5 linked regions of the Homo sapiens genome follow. The protein of the gene in region 5 purifies or fractionates together with the protein of the main gene of each other region. This does not show direct contact. Each region holds a gene or a part of one and is shown on either strand. Other genes may lie near its edges.

Evidence for each region.
Region 1: the proteins of SRGAP1 (region 5) and ROBO1 purify together in Homo sapiens (affinity purification with mass spectrometry; one large-scale study listed by BioGRID and IntAct). This does not show direct contact.
Region 2: the proteins of SRGAP1 (region 5) and NKTR purify together in Homo sapiens (affinity purification with mass spectrometry; one large-scale study listed by BioGRID and IntAct). This does not show direct contact.
Region 3: the proteins of SRGAP1 (region 5) and RAPH1 purify together in Homo sapiens (affinity purification with mass spectrometry; one large-scale study listed by BioGRID and IntAct). This does not show direct contact.
Region 4: the proteins of SRGAP1 (region 5) and ARHGAP1 purify together in Homo sapiens (affinity purification with mass spectrometry; one large-scale study listed by BioGRID and IntAct). This does not show direct contact.

What each region holds. Positions count from the first base shown.
Region 1 is NC_000003.12:78,630,990-78,634,508, reverse strand, and holds part of ROBO1 (roundabout homolog 1 isoform a precursor), read left to right. Parts: intron 1-466; coding exon 467-574; intron 575-3,203; coding exon 3,204-3,348; intron 3,349-3,519. UniProt on the Homo sapiens protein: Receptor for SLIT1 and SLIT2 that mediates cellular responses to molecular guidance cues in cellular migration, including axonal navigation at the ventral midline of the neural tube and projection of axons to different regions during neuronal development.
Region 2 is NC_000003.12:42,638,669-42,642,187, forward strand, and holds part of NKTR (NK-tumor recognition protein), read left to right. Parts: coding exon 1-1,082; intron 1,083-3,519. UniProt on the Homo sapiens protein: PPIase that catalyzes the cis-trans isomerization of proline imidic peptide bonds in oligopeptides and may therefore assist protein folding. Component of a putative tumor-recognition complex involved in the function of NK cells.
Region 3 is NC_000002.12:203,486,798-203,490,316, reverse strand, and holds part of RAPH1 (ras-associated and pleckstrin homology domains-containing protein 1), read left to right. Parts: intron 1-227; coding exon 228-733; intron 734-3,519. UniProt on the Homo sapiens protein: Mediator of localized membrane signals. Implicated in the regulation of lamellipodial dynamics. Negatively regulates cell adhesion.
Region 4 is NC_000011.10:46,680,120-46,683,638, reverse strand, and holds part of ARHGAP1 (rho GTPase-activating protein 1), read left to right. Parts: intron 1-1,456; coding exon 1,457-1,588; intron 1,589-2,259; coding exon 2,260-2,346; intron 2,347-2,529; coding exon 2,530-2,628; intron 2,629-2,891; coding exon 2,892-2,999; intron 3,000-3,075; coding exon 3,076-3,152; intron 3,153-3,356; coding exon 3,357-3,434; intron 3,435-3,519. UniProt on the Homo sapiens protein: GTPase activator for the Rho, Rac and Cdc42 proteins, converting them to the putatively inactive GDP-bound state. Cdc42 seems to be the preferred substrate.
Region 5 is NC_000012.12:64,127,696-64,131,214, forward strand, and holds part of SRGAP1 (SLIT-ROBO Rho GTPase-activating protein 1), read left to right. Parts: coding exon 1-29; intron 30-165; coding exon 166-505; intron 506-2,478; exon of another isoform or gene 2,479-3,037; intron 3,038-3,519. UniProt on the Homo sapiens protein: GTPase-activating protein for RhoA and Cdc42 small GTPases. Together with CDC42 seems to be involved in the pathway mediating the repulsive signaling of Robo and Slit proteins in neuronal migration.

The sequences.
Region 1 (3,519 bases), on a different chromosome or scaffold from region 5:
CTGGAATGCAACTAGACGACAGATTATTACTGACTACATTCCAGTGGCAAGCTTATCATTTGGATTTTCACCTTTGCCTAAGTAAGCAGAAGCATTTCTGGGGCAAATTAAGATATTTGTTTTTTTTAATCATAGATATATTTTTTATTAGATATAACCTTGCTGACAGGTTTCAGTTTTATTTTTATGTATTGTGATTTATTTTTTATGATTTGCAGACATTTTTGTGATTCTTATTAAAATCATATTGATATTATATTATTAAAGTTATTTATAGTTTATATATATTTGGAGTATAAGCCTTTTTATATCCTGACAATCTGAATACAACAATAGAAGAGAAAAAAGGCAAATAAATGGTCCAATTTGTTTCTTTAGTTACTCAGAAATATAGAGAAAGCAGAGATGTGAAATCGCTCATGAAGAGAAAATAAATGTTTATTGTTTTTTCATCTGATATGTCTAGATTATCGAGCAAATGACACAGTTCCTCCAACTATCCCATACAACCAATCATACGACCAGAACACAGGAGGATCCTACAACAGCTCAGACCGGGGCAGTAGTACATCTGGTAAGTAAGATGAACCAAAGAACTTCTCCTTTAAAAAGCTGGTACTTTCCAAGATTACAAATTGAGTGCTAATGGACTGACGTATGTAGGTGACATGTCTAAATCACTGTATGTAATTTGAGTCTCAGGCATGTGTCTTGTCTCTGCAATTTGAGGGACTTTCCACTCACTAAATCATTTTATGTTCTATTTGGCAAAAAGACTAAGTGTCCTATTTTCTTCCTTGTTAATGAGCTTTAGCAAAGCCAGAAGAAACATGTCTGGTTAATCTTTAAAGGCAGTTGAAACTTTTTCCCCGTTGGCCAAAATATAACTAAAAATGTTGCACAGAGTTAACCTGCTAAATATGTTGCCATTTGAAACGAGCCTATAAAAGCACATAATGTTTGAGGACACTTGAGCAGAATCAAAAGCCGGAGAGACAATAACATGAGATTCAGGTACAATAGGAGCCTGTCTCAGTTTATCATCCCTCTACGATCCCTCAGTTCTTGCTCTGAAGCCTCGTAAAGCAACCTCCCAACCTCAGTCTGTAAGTGCCTCCCAAAGCCACATTGAGGCCTCTTCCCTGTGGTCTTCATGCTGTTACAGCTGTTTGCCAGCTGTTTTCCTGATAGGGGCTGCAGATGGGAGCTTGCTGGGTACTTAAGTCCTGTTTTTCTAATTAAAGGCAGTTCGTTATTAGAACTAACATGTGGCACATCACACCACAATGAGAACAAAACCGACTGATCTTGACTCTAGCAATGTTTCTCCAGGAGAGGGTAGAAATGCCACTTCCCAGCAACTGGATTAAAGTTGTTCTTAGGGGCTTTTAGCCAAGAGTCTCCACCCTTCTTCTGTAATGAATATGGCATTTGCATTTTACAGTTTTCCCTTAACTAACACGCTGGTCTGGCATTGTCTAGCCTGTGTTTCTGTTGGAATTAAGGGAGCTTAGAAATGGCCCTTTACCTTTTAGATTTACTCTGATTCTATTATATGTTATTTGTTTGTTTTAACAATTAACATCTTATTAAATGACTTCTTTTTTGAAGCTAAGTCAATCCTGAATTAAGAGAAATATTTCAAGGATCTACTTTTAAGAAAATCATATGAAATATTTTAATATTTGATTATCTTATGCCATTTGATCTTTGAATTTTTAGTCACATAGAGAAAACCATATCTTAATGGGAAAATAAACAATGATTCTAGGTTATTAATCTTTAATTGACCTTCAGCATCCCTCAGCTTAGATACCTAGATCTGGGTGTTCTACTGCTATATATCATTTGATATTCTGTGAATATATGGTAAAAAGATGTAAAGATGCGTGATGGTAATTAGGGAAGAGAACAAAGCAAGTAAATAAGGTATAGGAGAGATCTGTGATAGGCCTCTCCGGACTGATGGAGTTGCTACAGTAGATGTATATCAGGAAATCCAGAGGAAGATGTGGGTTAATGTCTAGTCTACAACACATGCACAGTTATCCCAATGCTGGACACCGGAGTGGTGGACGAGAGAAGTGAGAGACATACACATAGGACTGATAATCGTAGTTTATTAATAACAGCCTGTCCCTAGCCCACGCTTAGTGTGGTAACCTACCAGTACAAGAACATCTGGCTTAACAAACACTGCCATTTGACTGAAAATTCCCAAGTGACAAAAAAATCAAGGCTCATTGAATATGATCAGACCTGATTCATATATTACATGACTTGGAGAAGGATTGGATAGGGTTAAAAAACTAAGGCCAACATAATGCACTGATATAAAGGGAACTTATGAGAAAAATAATCATAGACTCATTGTCTATAATTCACATATGAATCAAAAATATAACATATTGGAAAGGGGATATTTTGTCCCAAAATATTTGTTGACCTAAAGTTTTTGTTAAAATAAATGCTCTCAAATATATAGCCTCTTGTGTTTAAAAAATATGCCAGATCTAAAATGAGAACACTGGAGCACTTGAATGATTGGGCTATGTCAAACTACTAAGAATGTTCAAGCAACATCATTTTACCATAAGCCATCATTGTACAGAAACAGTGGCTGAAAACACTTCTGTCCCTTTTAAAAATCATTTTTCTGCTTCTTTTGTCATTAGTTCTATCAGTTATTCCAGCTATTATTTCATCTGTACTTGCCTTTCTGAAGGGAACTAGTAATTTCATTGTGCCTAAAACATTTCAATGGACAAGTACAAATTATATATATTCAGTGATTTAATGCAACAGTGGAACTCTAATAGATCGTATCTGTATCATATTGTATTTTAAGTTCCAGCAATTAAATAATAGAAAGGCACTCGAGAAAATATATCTACAGCTCATTTGTTTGAGATGATAATCCATAATGCAATTAATTGCTGCAGGAAGATCACTATTAATGATATGACTTGAAACATTCATTCATGGTTTTATTGCTTTTTTGCTATTTATTTTGCAGTTATTCATGGCAGTACCTTGCATGTTCTCTTGTACAAAGTTCTGTTTAAAATTAATGAAAAAGCATGTTTATCTCTGTATATATAAATGAATTATAAAATCATATTTACAAAAAATAATTAACTTGTGACTAATGGAAAAAGTTTAAAGGCCAGAGATCAATGGCTTCTATTTTATTTCCTTTCTAGGGAGTCAGGGGCACAAGAAAGGGGCAAGAACACCCAAGGTACCAAAACAGGGTGGCATGAACTGGGCAGACCTGCTTCCTCCTCCCCCAGCACATCCTCCTCCACACAGCAATAGCGAAGAGTACAACATTTCTGTAGATGAAAGGTAAGAGGAGCATCCAAACAGATGTAAACAGTGTAATATGATTGTTTCAGCCCATTTTCAGCAATTATTATACTAGGTGGTCAAGAGAAGACTGATTCCTAAGGTCCACAAACAGTTGCCTTTAAATAAAATAGTGCTGGTCAGCAGGAAGTAAAAATTCTCCTTGCTGCT
Region 2 (3,519 bases), on a different chromosome or scaffold from region 5:
CACACCAAAAAAGTGAAAGAGAAATTGAAAGGGAAAAAAGACAAAAAGCATAAGGCTCCAAAACGAAAGCAAGCATTTCACTGGCAGCCTCCACTAGAATTTGGTGAAGAGGAGGAGGAGGAGATTGATGACAAGCAAGTTACTCAGGAATCAAAAGAGAAAAAAGTTTCTGAAAACAATGAAACCATAAAAGATAATATTCTAAAAACTGAGAAATCCAGTGAAGAGGACCTTTCAGGTAAACATGATACAGTGACTGTTTCATCAGATCTTGATCAGTTTACTAAAGATGATAGTAAACTCAGTATTTCTCCCACAGCTTTAAATACTGAGGAAAATGTGGCCTGTTTACAAAACATTCAGCACGTTGAAGAAAGTGTTCCCAATGGAGTGGAAGATGTGCTTCAAACAGATGACAACATGGAGATCTGCACTCCTGATAGGAGTTCCCCAGCAAAAGTAGAGGAGACTTCCCCTCTAGGAAATGCACGGCTTGATACCCCAGATATAAACATTGTTTTGAAGCAGGATATGGCAACGGAACATCCTCAAGCAGAGGTAGTAAAACAGGAAAGCAGCATGTCCGAAAGTAAAGTGTTGGGTGAAGTGGGGAAACAGGACAGCAGCTCTGCTAGCTTGGCTAGTGCTGGAGAAAGTACCGGGAAGAAGGAGGTGGCTGAGAAGAGCCAGATCAACCTCATTGATAAGAAATGGAAGCCCCTGCAAGGTGTGGGGAACCTGGCAGCACCTAATGCTGCCACATCCAGTGCTGTGGAAGTTAAGGTGTTGACCACTGTGCCTGAAATGAAACCACAAGGCTTGAGAATAGAAATTAAAAGCAAAAATAAAGTTCGGCCTGGGTCTCTCTTTGATGAAGTAAGAAAGACAGCACGCTTAAACCGTAGACCAAGAAATCAGGAGAGTTCAAGTGATGAGCAGACGCCTAGTCGGGATGATGATAGCCAGTCCAGGAGTCCAAGTAGATCTCGAAGTAAATCTGAAACCAAATCAAGACACAGAACAAGGTCTGTCTCCTATAGTCACTCAAGAAGTCGATCGAGAAGTTCCACATCATCTTATCGGTGAGCAATATTCTCTTTCCTTTCTTCTCCCAAGGAGAGTCTGTTATTGTTTAGCTTGGAAGAATATCAGAATTAGGGACAGAATCACTATTTCCAAATATCTGAAAGGAATAAGAAGTCTTGTTTTGTGTGATTCAGAGAGTAGATTGAAAACTTAGGGAGAGGGAATTTCAGGAGGAGAAATTTGGGCTGGGTTTACAAAACTATTACTATCAGTTTAAAGCTCTCTGTCACTAGAAATGAGTTCCCATGATAGGTGGTAAATTCTCCATCTTTAAAGGTGTGAGGCTGCTTCTTGCCAGTCAAGTGATGCCTTAGAAGGGAATCCTGAATTGACAGAATATATAGAATTTGCAGATCATTAATCTAACCTTCCATTTTACACATGTGGAAGTTGAGGGCCAGAGAGACAAAGTTACCTGCCCAAGACATGCATCTTAGTTTAGATGGGGCATAGGGATAAAAATGATCATCTTTAGATTTTTGTTGTTGTTTGAAAAGCAATAAAAGAATTTAAAACACCTTTTTCTCATCTTTGTCACTCTGCACCTTCATGAAAAGGTTTTTTGTTATTGTTATAAATTGCATCATAACTTGTCAGCATAGAATGGATAACAGAGATGAGAATTAAAAACTAAAAATATTTGTGATGGTAATAGGAAGTTAGTAAGCAGTTGTGTTGCATTCTTTTTCTTGTAAATATTTTATGGTTTTACCTGTTTCTTAATTATTCATATCCCTTATTTTATTGTGCTTGATATTCATCATTTGAACTGAAAATACCATAAGAATCTTTGACGTTTGTTTCCTTTCTAGTTATTCATCAGTCTTTCTTCCCTTGCCTACCCAGACTTCCTAAAAAAGGAACCGCCACGTGCCATCTATACTCGGTCTCCCATTTTCTCCTCGGCTGTGTGCTTGCTGCCTTCTGTGCCTTCCCCTCCCCGCATCTCTTAGTTTACTGACTAAGACTTTCAGGTACTTCTGATGGCCAGTACCATGGCGTATTTTCAGCCTCACTTCTGGAGCCCTCTGCTAGCTCTCCTTTCTCCCACTCAGGCCATTTCGTCCCTGTGTTCTAGGCTTCTCTTCTTCCTCATGGCCTTTTCTCTCTGAGTTCCTGTTGATAGATGCAGTTGCCTATTGAGCGACTCCAGCTTCCTGTCTGCTTATGATCTGCCTTAACCATTTACACAGAGACAGCTCTGAGCTATTCGTGATGCTGGCCACTCTTCTCATTTACCTTCCCACCTCTGCCTTGGAGTGGGTGGTATTTCAGTTTGTAATGAAGACAGCAAGGCGTAGAAAGGCTAAGGGACTTGTTCTAGGCTATGCAGCTAACAGGTAGTAGACTGAGATGGATAAGCCTGGGTGCTGCCCTGCCTCCCTGTTTTGGTTACCTGCCTGGGCCTGACACCCCCATTAGGCTGTGAACTCCTTGAAGTCAGGAACTGTGTGTTACTCATCGTTCAGTCACCTCACAGGGTCTGGCTTTATTATTTTTGGTTGAATAAATGACTACAATCTTATTAGAACATAACGTATTCATTTTCTTGCAGATATACTGGAAGCAGGTCATGTCTTCCAAAACATAGTGCATACTGAATAAAACCTATGGTGATATTACATAATGTCACCTGTACACAGAGGTATTGTTCTGTTCCTGAATGACAGGCCTAAAGTAGGGGAGAAGGGTGGGGAGCCAAGTGAATGCAGAGGGGCAGAATTGTACTGCTTACATTTTTGCTTGTTTTATTAAGTATTAGACATAAAAAATGATAAAAGTATAAAAAGCTATATAATACATACTCATGTACCTGCCATCTAGCTTAAAAAATAGATCTTTGGGCCGGGTGTGGTGGCTCACACCTGTAATCCCAGTACTTTGGGAGGCCGAGGTGGGCAGATCACAAGGTCAGGAGTTCAACACCAGCCTAACCAACATGGTGAAACCCTGTCTCTACTAAAAATACAAAAATTAGCCGGGCGTGGTAGTGCGTGTCTGTAATCCCAGCTACTCAGGAGGCTGAGGCAGGAGAATTGCTTGAACCTGGGAAGCAGAGGTTGCAGTGAGCCAAGATCGCGCCACTGCACTCCAGCCTGGGCGACAGAGCAAGACTCCTCAAAAAAAAAAAAAAAATAGAGCTTTGATGTACCAGTGCCACCCCTAGGTGCATGCCTATGTCCCAAAGTTAACCATTATTCTAAACTTTGGTTATAATTTTGTTGTCTTTCTTTATAGCTTTACCCCAAGTGTTTCTATCTTTATACAATGTTATGTTTGCACTTTTTATTAAGTAAAATACTTTTATATATATAGATGTTCTACATTTGCCTTCTTCATTCAACATTGTGTTCTAGAGATATATCCTTGCTGAAACATGTAGCTGTAGTTCATTTTCTTCAGAATATTTCGTTATATATCTCTACCTTAATG
Region 3 (3,519 bases), on a different chromosome or scaffold from region 5:
TCTTTGAACTCATAATTTATTCTCCTCTGATTATTACAAGCCTTAAAAGAGGAGGACTGTGTACTTCTAAAAATTTATCTTGGAATTTAAAACAAAAACCAGAAATACTTAATTTTATTTGCTTTAGGCCCAACAAAATATATTCTTTTGCTTCATCACCTGCATTTATTAACTGATTTATAATAGAATGTATAAATTCTGGAAACATTATGTGTTGTTCATTGCAGAAGCTCTGAATCAGGGAGAGACTGTGGATCTGGATGCCTTGATGGCTGATCTTTGCTCTATAGAGCAGGAGCTCAGCAGCATTGGTTCAGGAAACAGTAAGCGTCAAATCACAGAAACGAAAGCTACTCAGAAATTGCCTGTTAGCCGACATACATTGAAACATGGCACCTTGAAAGGATTATCTTCTTCATCTAATAGGATAGCTAAACCTTCCCATGCCAGCTACTCCTTGGACGACGTCACTGCACAGTTAGAACAGGCCTCTTTGAGTATGGATGAGGCTGCTCAGCAATCTGTACTAGAAGATACTAAACCCTTAGTAACTAATCAGCACAGAAGAACCGCGTCAGCAGGCACAGTGAGTGATGCTGAAGTACACTCTATTAGTAATTCCTCCCATTCCAGCATCACTTCCGCAGCCTCCAGCATGGACTCTTTGGATATTGATAAAGTAACACGCCCTCAAGAGCTGGATTTGACACATCAAGGGCAGCCAATTACTGAGGTAAATAAATGGAACTTTTTCCCTGGTATTTTGTTATTAAAATAAAGGAGAAATTATATTAAAATAATTTTAATTAACTTCTTAAATTCTTCTACATTTATAATTTGTCAAAGATACTTCTGAGATAGGTTTCAAGAGTACAGAAGGAATATATTATCAGATATGGTAGTGGCACAAAGATGATTTAGAAGAAATTTAGTTTCTTTTTTATTCTCGTGACTATAGTATTTGGAAGTTCTTGAATGGCATTTTTTATTGTAATATGAGTCATTTCACGTGATTTGAAAAATTAAAATGATTCACAAAACCATTTAGTTATTTAATGTATGTTGATTTAAAGTAAAACTTAAGAAAAACACTCATATCACCATTGTGGTCCTCCAAGATTCTAGTTTACAGGGTTAACTCCATTTCATTATCTTTTTTTTTTTCTCCTTTTTTTTTCTTTGAGATGGAGTTTGTACTCTTGTACAACTCATGCCCAGGCTGGAGTGCAGTGGCGTGATCTCAGCTCGCTGCAACCTCCACCTCCCAGGTTCAAGTGATTCTCCTGCCTCAGACTCCCAAGTGTAGCTGGGATTACAGGCGCTCACCACCATGCCCAGCTAATTTTCATATTTTTAGTAGAGATGGGATTTCACCATGTTGGCCAGGCTGGTCTCGAACTCCTGACCTCAGGTGATCCAACCGCCTTGGCCTCCCAAAGTACTGGGATTACAGGCGTGAGCCACTGTGCCCGGCCCTCCATTTCATTATTGAAGAGTCAGTATGGTATATTGGAAAGGGCCACCAGGTATGGAATCAGGAAACTTGATTCTGAGTTTTCCTTGCCACTCACTACCCATGGGACCTTAAGTGAGTTATTCTCTTAAACATCAATTTCTCACAAGTAAAATGGAGTTCATAGTACTATATCTGCCTTCCTGATAGGGTGGTTCAGAGAACAAAAGTTGTTCATAAACAGGTTTTTTTTTTTTTTTTTTTTTTTTTTTTTTAATAGACGGAGTCTCATTCTGTCGCCCAGGCTGGAGTGCAGTGGCATGATCTTGGCTCACTGCAACCTTGCCTCCCGGGTTAAGTGATTCTCCTGCCTCAGCCTCCTGAGTAGCTGGGATTACAGGCGTGTGCCACCATGCCTGGCTAATTTTTGTATTTTTGGTAGAGACGGGGTTTCACCATGCTGGCCAGGCTGGTCTCAAACTCCTGACCTTGTGATCCGCCCACTTCCCAAAGTGCTGGGGTTACAGGTGTGAGCCACTGCGCCCAGCCAGAGTTCGTAATACTATATCTGCCTTCCTGATAGGGTGGTTCAGAGAACCGTAAGTTATTCATGAACAGATTTTTAAAAGATGGAATTTTTTTCAGCATGTGACTGGATAAGATAGGGAATAGATTTGCGGTAACAAGTTCAACAAAAGCTGAGTTTGGTGAAAGAGAATTCTTTATTGAGTTGTTTTCATCAAAGAGATGGTAATTCTGTCATAGGGTAGCAGCAAGAAAGAAGAAAAATGGGGCAAAGTTAAGTCAACCTTTCCAATAAGCTTGTGTTGACAATATTCTAATATGGGATAAAAGAATCTATTTATGAATAATCAGTACTAAAGTAAAATCTTGAATTTTAACTATTACTTGACATCATTGATTTTTTTTTCGTAACTTATTTAATTCTTTGGATTAATTTCCATCAGTAGGTAACTCTTGGTACCCACCCATGTGCGTAGCTTTGTTTTTGGTACTGTGGAGCACAAAAGGAGTATGAATCATGGTGGTTTGGAGATAAACTTGAGTTATTTCAAAGAAAGCGAATCTTATCAATCTGAAGAATAAACTTTCATTTATTTAAAATGAAACTTATCTAAGTGGTATATATTCTATAGAGAACTTGAAAACTGATTTCTAGGCCGGACGTGGTGGCTCACACCTGTAATCCCAACACTTTGGGAGGCCGAGGCGGGCGGATCACCTGAGGTCAGGAGTTTGAGACCACCCTGGCCAACATGGTGAAACCCTGTCTCTACTAAAAATACAAAAAAAAATTAGTTGGATGTGGTGGCGCATGCCTGTAATCCCAGCTGCTCGGGAGGGTGAGGTAGGAGAATCGCTTGAACCAGGGAGTCGGAGGTTGCAGTGAGCCAAGATCGTGCCACTGCACTCCAGCCTGGCAACAGCAAGACTCCGTCTACAAAAAAAAAAGGAAAAAAAAAACTGATTTCTATTTTGTGATACCTGGGAATTATATTTAGCCACCAGCTACTTAATATGTATCATTTCATGTCCTTTAGATTTACCTGCTAGGATATGAGCAATATTTTATTAGGGATGTGCTTTCTTGGCCATTCTTTGTTTTGTATGTTGATATTCCTTCCAATCAGTTTACAGTATTTTGAGTTGGATTAAGATGCGTGAGGGACAAGTTATAAACTAATCATTAAGGATCTTCTAATACCGTATGCATGTCTTTCTGTCTGTAAAATGTGCTCATTATAAAAGTTCATACAGTATAGGGGCAAATTGAAGTAAAACGTGAAAAGTTCCTCTCTCCCAGCAAGCGCACTTCAAATGGTATCTAGTGGTATCCATGGGTATCACTGTGAATACTGCAAAGATACCAGTGCTCAATGGTATAATGTTTAATATAAGAGTTTAATGTAAGGTTTGGTGAGTAAACCAGGACTATAGCAGGGAAAGGAGTTAAAAAGCCTTATCTAGCTAGCCTGTTCTTTTGCCTCACCTAGGAGTATAGAAAGGTGGTTTAACAAACCCGGAACTTGCTTCCATTTGCTTTT
Region 4 (3,519 bases), on a different chromosome or scaffold from region 5:
GGGCTTTACACACACTCCCTTCCCTTTCCCCAGTTCTTGTTCATTCCATCCATAACTCTCAGTGTGCTCAACACCAGGTGTGTATATGTTTGTGCTGAGCTGGTAGATAGCGTGTCATGAGCATAATAGGGAACCAGAGGAATTGGGGCTCTTTGGTCCACTAAAGGCCCAGTGACTGGAGCAGGTGACTCTCTGGCCACCCCATCCCCTCTCATGGGCACAGTGTTTTACCGCCGGCACTGGAGTTCATGTGTAGAAGGCAAAGCTGTCCCATGGTCAAGAATGCAGGCTTTCGGCCAGGTGCAGTGACTCATGCCTGTAATCTCCCAGCACTTTGGGAGGCTGAGGTGGGAGGATTGCTTGAGGCCAGGAACTCAAGACCAGCCTGGGCAACATAGTGAGACCTGTCTCTACAAAATAAAAAGTAGAAAAAAGAGCCGGGTGTGGTGGCTCACACCTGCGGTTCCTACTACTCAGGAGGCTGAGGCAGGAGGATAGCTTAAGCCTGGGAGGTCAAGGCTGCGGTGAGCTGTGATTGCGCTACGGTGCCCCAGCCTGGGTGACAGTAAGACCCTGTCTCAAAAAAAAAAAAAAAAAAAAAGCAGGCTTTGGTGTTAGACACTTCACTTCCAGGATCTACCACAAGCTGTGTGACCTTGGATCAGCACTTGACCTCTCTGGTCATTGCCTTCATTTGTAGGATGGGGATTACATCAGCCTCAGTTATAAGCAATGTATGAGCTAATGTATGTGAAGTGCTTGGCAGACACTAAAAACTTAATATTGAGAAATGGTGACTGTCATCATTATTATTGATTCAGAGAAATCCCTGATTCAGGGGAAACGTCATTCCCCTTTTCACTGCAGGCCTAGGCAGGCCCGGGTTAGGGTCCTGGTCTCCTGACATCTAGTTCCTGCTCAAGAGTGAGAACTGTTATTATTATTACTATTATTGAGACAGAGTTTCACTCTTGTTGCCCAGGCTGGAGTACAGTGCCACAATCTCTGCTCACTGAAACCTCCGCCTCCTGGGTTCAAGCGATTCTCCTGCCTCAGCCTCCTGAGTAGCTGGGATTACAGGCCTGCACCACCATGCTCGGCTAATTTTTGCATTTTTAGTAGAGATGGGGTTTCACCATGTTGGCCAGGCTGGTCTTGAACTCCTGACCTCAGGTGATCCACCCGCCTTGGCCTCCCAAAGTGTTGGGATTACAGGCATGAGCCACTGCGCCCGGCTGAGAGCTGTTATTACTATTCTCATTCCTCTGCCCAGCCTCTACCCTAGGCCTCCTCCACAGCAACCTGGTGACTGATTATGAGCCAGAACAGACTGTGCTAGGGGAGGGCCTGTGGGGAAGGGGCTGTGACGTGGTGGGAGACTCTTGGGGCTGCTTTCTGTCTTCGTGGGGCCGCCCCTGTGCACAGGGCAGGCCTGAGCAGGGCTTTTCCCTGGAAGGTACCTGAAGCACACCCTGGACCAGTACGTGGAGAGTGACTACACACTTCTGTATCTGCACCACGGCCTGACCAGCGACAACAAGCCCTCCCTCAGCTGGCTCCGTGATGCCTACCGGGAGTTTGACCGCAAGTGGGTTGGGGCATGGGGCCTGCACAGTCAGATCCAGAGGCAGCGGCTCTGCCAGCTTCCGGGCTGCCCTCCACTTGGGCAGGAGCTTATTCCAAGGCAGGGGGTGGCGGGGGCTGCCGTCTACGTCAATGTAAAGAATCTGCAGTCAGATCACCCTGGGCTTAAGTAAGGCCCAGTTTCTCAGCTTATTTGCACTCTGACCTCTTGTTTTACTTAACCTCTTTGAGCCTCCTGTTTTCTAATCTGTAAAATGAGACAGTGATGGCCCTTACCTCGCATGCTGGCCATGCATGTTCAAATCAGAAAATATGCACTGAGGCAGGGTGTGGTGGCTCACACCTGTAATCCCAGCACTTTGGGAAGCTGAGGCGGATGGATCACTTGAGGTCAGGAGTTCCAGACCAGCCTGGCCAACATGGTGAAACCCTGTCTCCGCTAAAAATACAAAAATTAGCTAGGTGTGGTGGTGGGTGCCTGTAATCCTAGTTACTCAGGAGGCTGAGGCAGGAGAATAGCTTGAATCCGGGAGGTGGAGGCTGCAATGAGCTGAGATCACACTCCAGCCTGGGTGAAGGAGACTCTGTCTCAAAAAAAAAAAGTATGCACTGGGACCCTAGCGTGGCACCTGTCCCACCACGCCTGCTCCTGAGTTGTCCATTCTGTCTCTGCAGGTACAAGAAAAACATCAAGGCCTTGTACATCGTGCATCCAACCATGTTCATCAAAACTCTGCTCATCCTCTTCAAGCCCCTCATCAGGTGAGTGGCCACGGGCAGGGCTGGTGGTCCCGGCTTGCCTGGAACTCTGAAGCTGGGAGGCTGGGCAGCCTGGGGACCACCAGGTGCGGCTGGGCTTCCGTCTGAACTGGGTGGGTGTTGAGGGGAGAGTGGAGGCCACCGGAAGCGGGCCCCCACAACCCAGGCCCTTTCTTCCACCAACAGCTTCAAGTTCGGGCAGAAGATCTTCTATGTGAATTACCTGAGCGAGCTGAGCGAGCACGTGAAGCTGGAGCAGCTGGGGATCCCTCGCCAAGTGCTCAAGTGAGGCGGGTGCGGCGGCTGGGGGCTCGTGAAGCCAGGGTAATGAGGACGTGTGTCCTGATTCAGAGACCGCGTGGGGCTTAGGCAGAGCAAGCCCGTGTCCCGACCTCTCCCAGGTCTTTGCTTTCTGCTGTGGAAAGCGGAGTTGTTACAGAGATCGCATGAGATGATCCTCCTGACCCCGCGTGGTCAATGCTTGATTGAATTGGCAGAGTGACTCCAGAGCCAGGCAGGACCTGACCCACCTCCCTCTACTCCTACAGATATGACGACTTCCTGAAATCCACACAGAAGAGCCCCGCGACAGCCCCCAAGCCCATGCCCCCACGGCCCCCCCTGCCCAACCAGCAGTTTGGAGTCTCGCTGCAGCAGTAAGTATGAAAGGTGGCTGGGCCACGGCGGGGCGGGAAGGGCTGCAGGCCCGGCTCACCAGCCTTTTTCCCGCAGCCTCCAGGAGAAGAATCCAGAGCAGGAGCCCATTCCCATTGTACTCAGGGAGACTGTTGCCTACTTACAGGCCCACGGTGAGTGCCGGGCCTGCCTCCTCACCAGCCAGGTCTCCCGGCTCCCTTCAGGAAGCTGGGGAAGCTGCTGGGCAGGGCAGAGGGAGGTCCTGCAAGCCTCAACGTCCCCACCCAGCCCTGCCTAGAACCCCAAGACAGAGAAGGGGCAGGGAATCCAGCCGGTGCCCAGCGCTCGGAGGCTCACCAGGCCCTACTGTTTCCCAGCTCTCACCACCGAGGGCATCTTCCGGAGGTCGGCCAACACCCAAGTGGTCCGGGAAGTGCAGCAGAAGTACAACATGGGTGAGCAGCCCTGGGCTGTTGCAGGGCCATATGTGTGTTACTGGTAGGGGGCTTCTCTGCCCTCTGCTGCCCTGTAAATGAGAGT
Region 5 (3,519 bases):
GACCGTCATCCTGACGGCTATTTAGCCAGGTAAGTAGAGCCTGGGAATCAGGCCCCTAAGCCTCCGCTCCTCCTGGGGCCATGAGGAGCCACTGCACCTCAGCCTTGCAGTACTGCCCGGTGTGATAAGCTCTTCTGTTTTCTCCCTGTTTCTGTGAATGTCTAGGCAACGAAAAAGAGGAGAGCCACCCCCTCCAGTAAGGCGTCCTGGCAGGACCAGTGATGGCCATTGCCCGCTCCACCCTCCACATGCCCTTTCTAACTCCTCAGTTGACCTAGGGTCCCCAAGCCTTGCCAGTCACCCCCGGGGCCTGCTGCAGAACCGTGGCCTCAACAATGACAGTCCTGAGCGGAGGCGCAGGCCTGGCCATGGCAGCCTGACCAACATCAGCCGGCACGACTCCCTCAAGAAGATCGACAGCCCTCCCATTAGAAGGTCCACGTCATCAGGGCAATACACGGGCTTCAATGACCACAAGCCACTGGACCCAGAGACAATTGCTCAGGTACGATGCTTTTAATTACATATTGCATTTTAAGTACCTAAGTGTGATGTAGGAGGTGTGAAAGATTTACTTTATTTACTTTTTACTTTATTTACTTTATATTTCTGTATAGAACCAACTAAAGAAAACAGAAACAAAACCAGCTCATTCTTTAACTTAGGCCCTGAGTCTTTTTTGAACAATTTGTTACTGAAAGGGCCCAAAGGTTCATAGTGATTTAAACAGAAACATGACAAAAACGTAGGACCAGGACACTCAAACCTATCATTGTGAATAGCCAGAAAAACTTTGAAAAAGAAGAATGGGAAAGCAGTGGCCCTGCCAGATCCTAAATGCATTCTAAAGCTAGTAAAACAGACAGATGGATGAAACAGAATGGAGAGCCCAGAAACAGAAAAACCTTAAAACAGTAGTCCCTCCTTATCTGCAGGGCATATGTTTCAAGACCCCCAGTGGATGCCTGAAGCCACAGATAGTGCAAACCCCTACTGTATATGATAAAGATGGCACTTTCAACTTAGAAAAGATGAGACCTAATAAATAATGTGATCAATAATAGATAGATATTTGAAGAACAAGTCTGGATCCTATGTACCTCCTGAACACATTCAGGTCTTTGCTTCCCAACAGTGACTGCAGAGGGGCTGTGTAGTTTTCTTCTAATGACTAAAATTGACCAAGTAAAAGGGAAACAATACTAATAAATTTGCCCATCATTCTACCATTTTTCCCTCTGGTTCTGGCTCTTTTCACAGCACAGGCCATGAGAACATATGTTCGTAGGCCTAGTGGGTGGCTTACACCTGTAATCCCAACACTTTAGGAGGCTGAGGCAAGAAGATAGCTTGAGGTTAGGAGTTTGAGACAAGCCTGGTCAATATAGCAAAATCCCGTGTCTAAAAAAAAAAATTTTTTTTTAATTACCTAGGTATATTAGGATTCTCTAGAGGGACAGAATTAATGGAATATATATACATATAAAGGGGAGTTTATTAAGTATTAACTCACACAATCACAGAGTCCCACAATAGGCCATCTGCAGGCTGAGGAGCAAGGAGAGCCAGTCCAAGTTCCAAAACTGAAGAACTTGGAGTCTGATGTTCAAGGGCAGGAAGCATACAGCACGGGAGGAAGACGTAGGCTGGGAGGCTAGGCCAGTCTAACCTTTTCATGTTTTTCTGCCTGCTTTATGTTCACTGGCAGTTAATTAGATGGTGCCCATCCAGATTAAGGGTGGGTCTGCCTTCCCCAGCCCACTGACTCAAATGTTAATTTCCTCTGGCAACCCCCTCACAGACACACCCAGGAGTAACACTTTGCATCCTTCAATCCAATCAAGTTGACACTCAGTATTAACCATCACAAGTCTACCCCTTGTCAACTTGAACCCATAAACATCTCCTGAGATCGTACATAATCTTCAAATAAAAACAATAATGTCATAATTACGCCTAACATGATACAACTGTCCTTTCCTATAACCGGAAACACACCAATCCCCAACCCAAATGCTATTACATAAAGTTAACAATACTTAAATGCTGATAGGAAGTCAATATAATCTTATGTCACATGCTAAAGGAAAAAGGAAATAAAATGAAGATATTTTCCTAGTACAAGTGTATACATGCACAAACATGTTTTTAACGAAAGAAGGAAATACTCATGACAATTACAGTCCCTGTTTCCACGTGGTCATAGCTGGTATTGATGACTACCTTCTACTACCCATTCCGTATTCCCTTTGCCTTCAGCAAGCACCTCAGCAGGTCGTGGTTGTTGTTGTTGTTGTTGTTGTTGTTGTTGTTTTCCTGGCGGAGTGACCCAAACCTTCATTCCTGAAGGGTCTGGGCCATTTGTAGTCCTGCCTGGATTGGGCTATTGTAGTTTCCCATTGACCTTAATCACAGAGCGTGGTAATACTAAGAAACGCCCTAATGGATCTCCTGTATTCCATGCACACTCTTTTTTACCTGCATCGTGGAGTAGTCGACTGATTTCATCTTGATAGTCTGAGTCAGTCACCTTAGCCAACACTGTAACTCCCTTCTTAGTCTGTTGCCTTAAAGGTAGGAGGAGCCCAAAGTGTCCAGGTGGCAATCTTAACTCAATGGCATTGTTGCTGTGTCTCCTGGTGGCACATTCCTCCCTCTGGAACTGAGACCTCTAGGCCAGCAGAACATAATGTCGCGGGAACAGGAAGTAAAAATGTTGCTAGGGGGTCACTAGGGATAATGATGAATGGTGCCACTTCCACTTCCACCTCTTGATTCCTGGACCCGTGAATCCTGGCTATGGGAGAAACTGCACCATGTATTGGACACAGATTCAGAGCATACACAGCCTTCTGGGGAACTTTGCCCCAGCCCTGCAAAGTATTGTCACCTAGTTGGTGTTGCAATTGTGACATCACAAGACCAATCCACCATTCTGTCAATCCAGCTGCTTCAGGATGATAGGGAGCATGGTAAGACCCATGAATTCCATGAGCATGAGCCCACTGCCACTCTTCTTTAGCCATAAAGTAAGTGCCTTGGTCAGAGGTAATGCTGTGTGGAATACCATCATGGTGGATAAGGCATTCCATGAGTCACAGATGGTAGTCTTGGCAGAAGCATTGTGTGCAGGATAGGCAAACCCATATCCGGAGTAACTGTCTATTCCAGTGAGGACAAACCTCTGCCCTTTTCATGATGGAAGAGGTCCAGTGTAATCAACCTGCCACCAGGTAGCTGGCTGATCACCCTGAGGAATGGTGCCATATCGAGGGCTGTGTTGGCTTCTGCTGCTGGCAAATTGAGCACTAAGCAGTGGCCATAGCCAGGTCAGCCTTGGTGAGTGGAAGTCCATGTTGCTGAGCCCATGAGTAACCTCCATCCCTGCCACTATGGCCACTTTGTTCATGGGCCCATTGAGCAAGAACAGGGGTGGCTGGGGAAAGAGGCTGAATGGTGTCCACAGAATGGCTCATCCTATCCACTTGATTATCAAAATCCTCCTCTGCTGAGGTCACC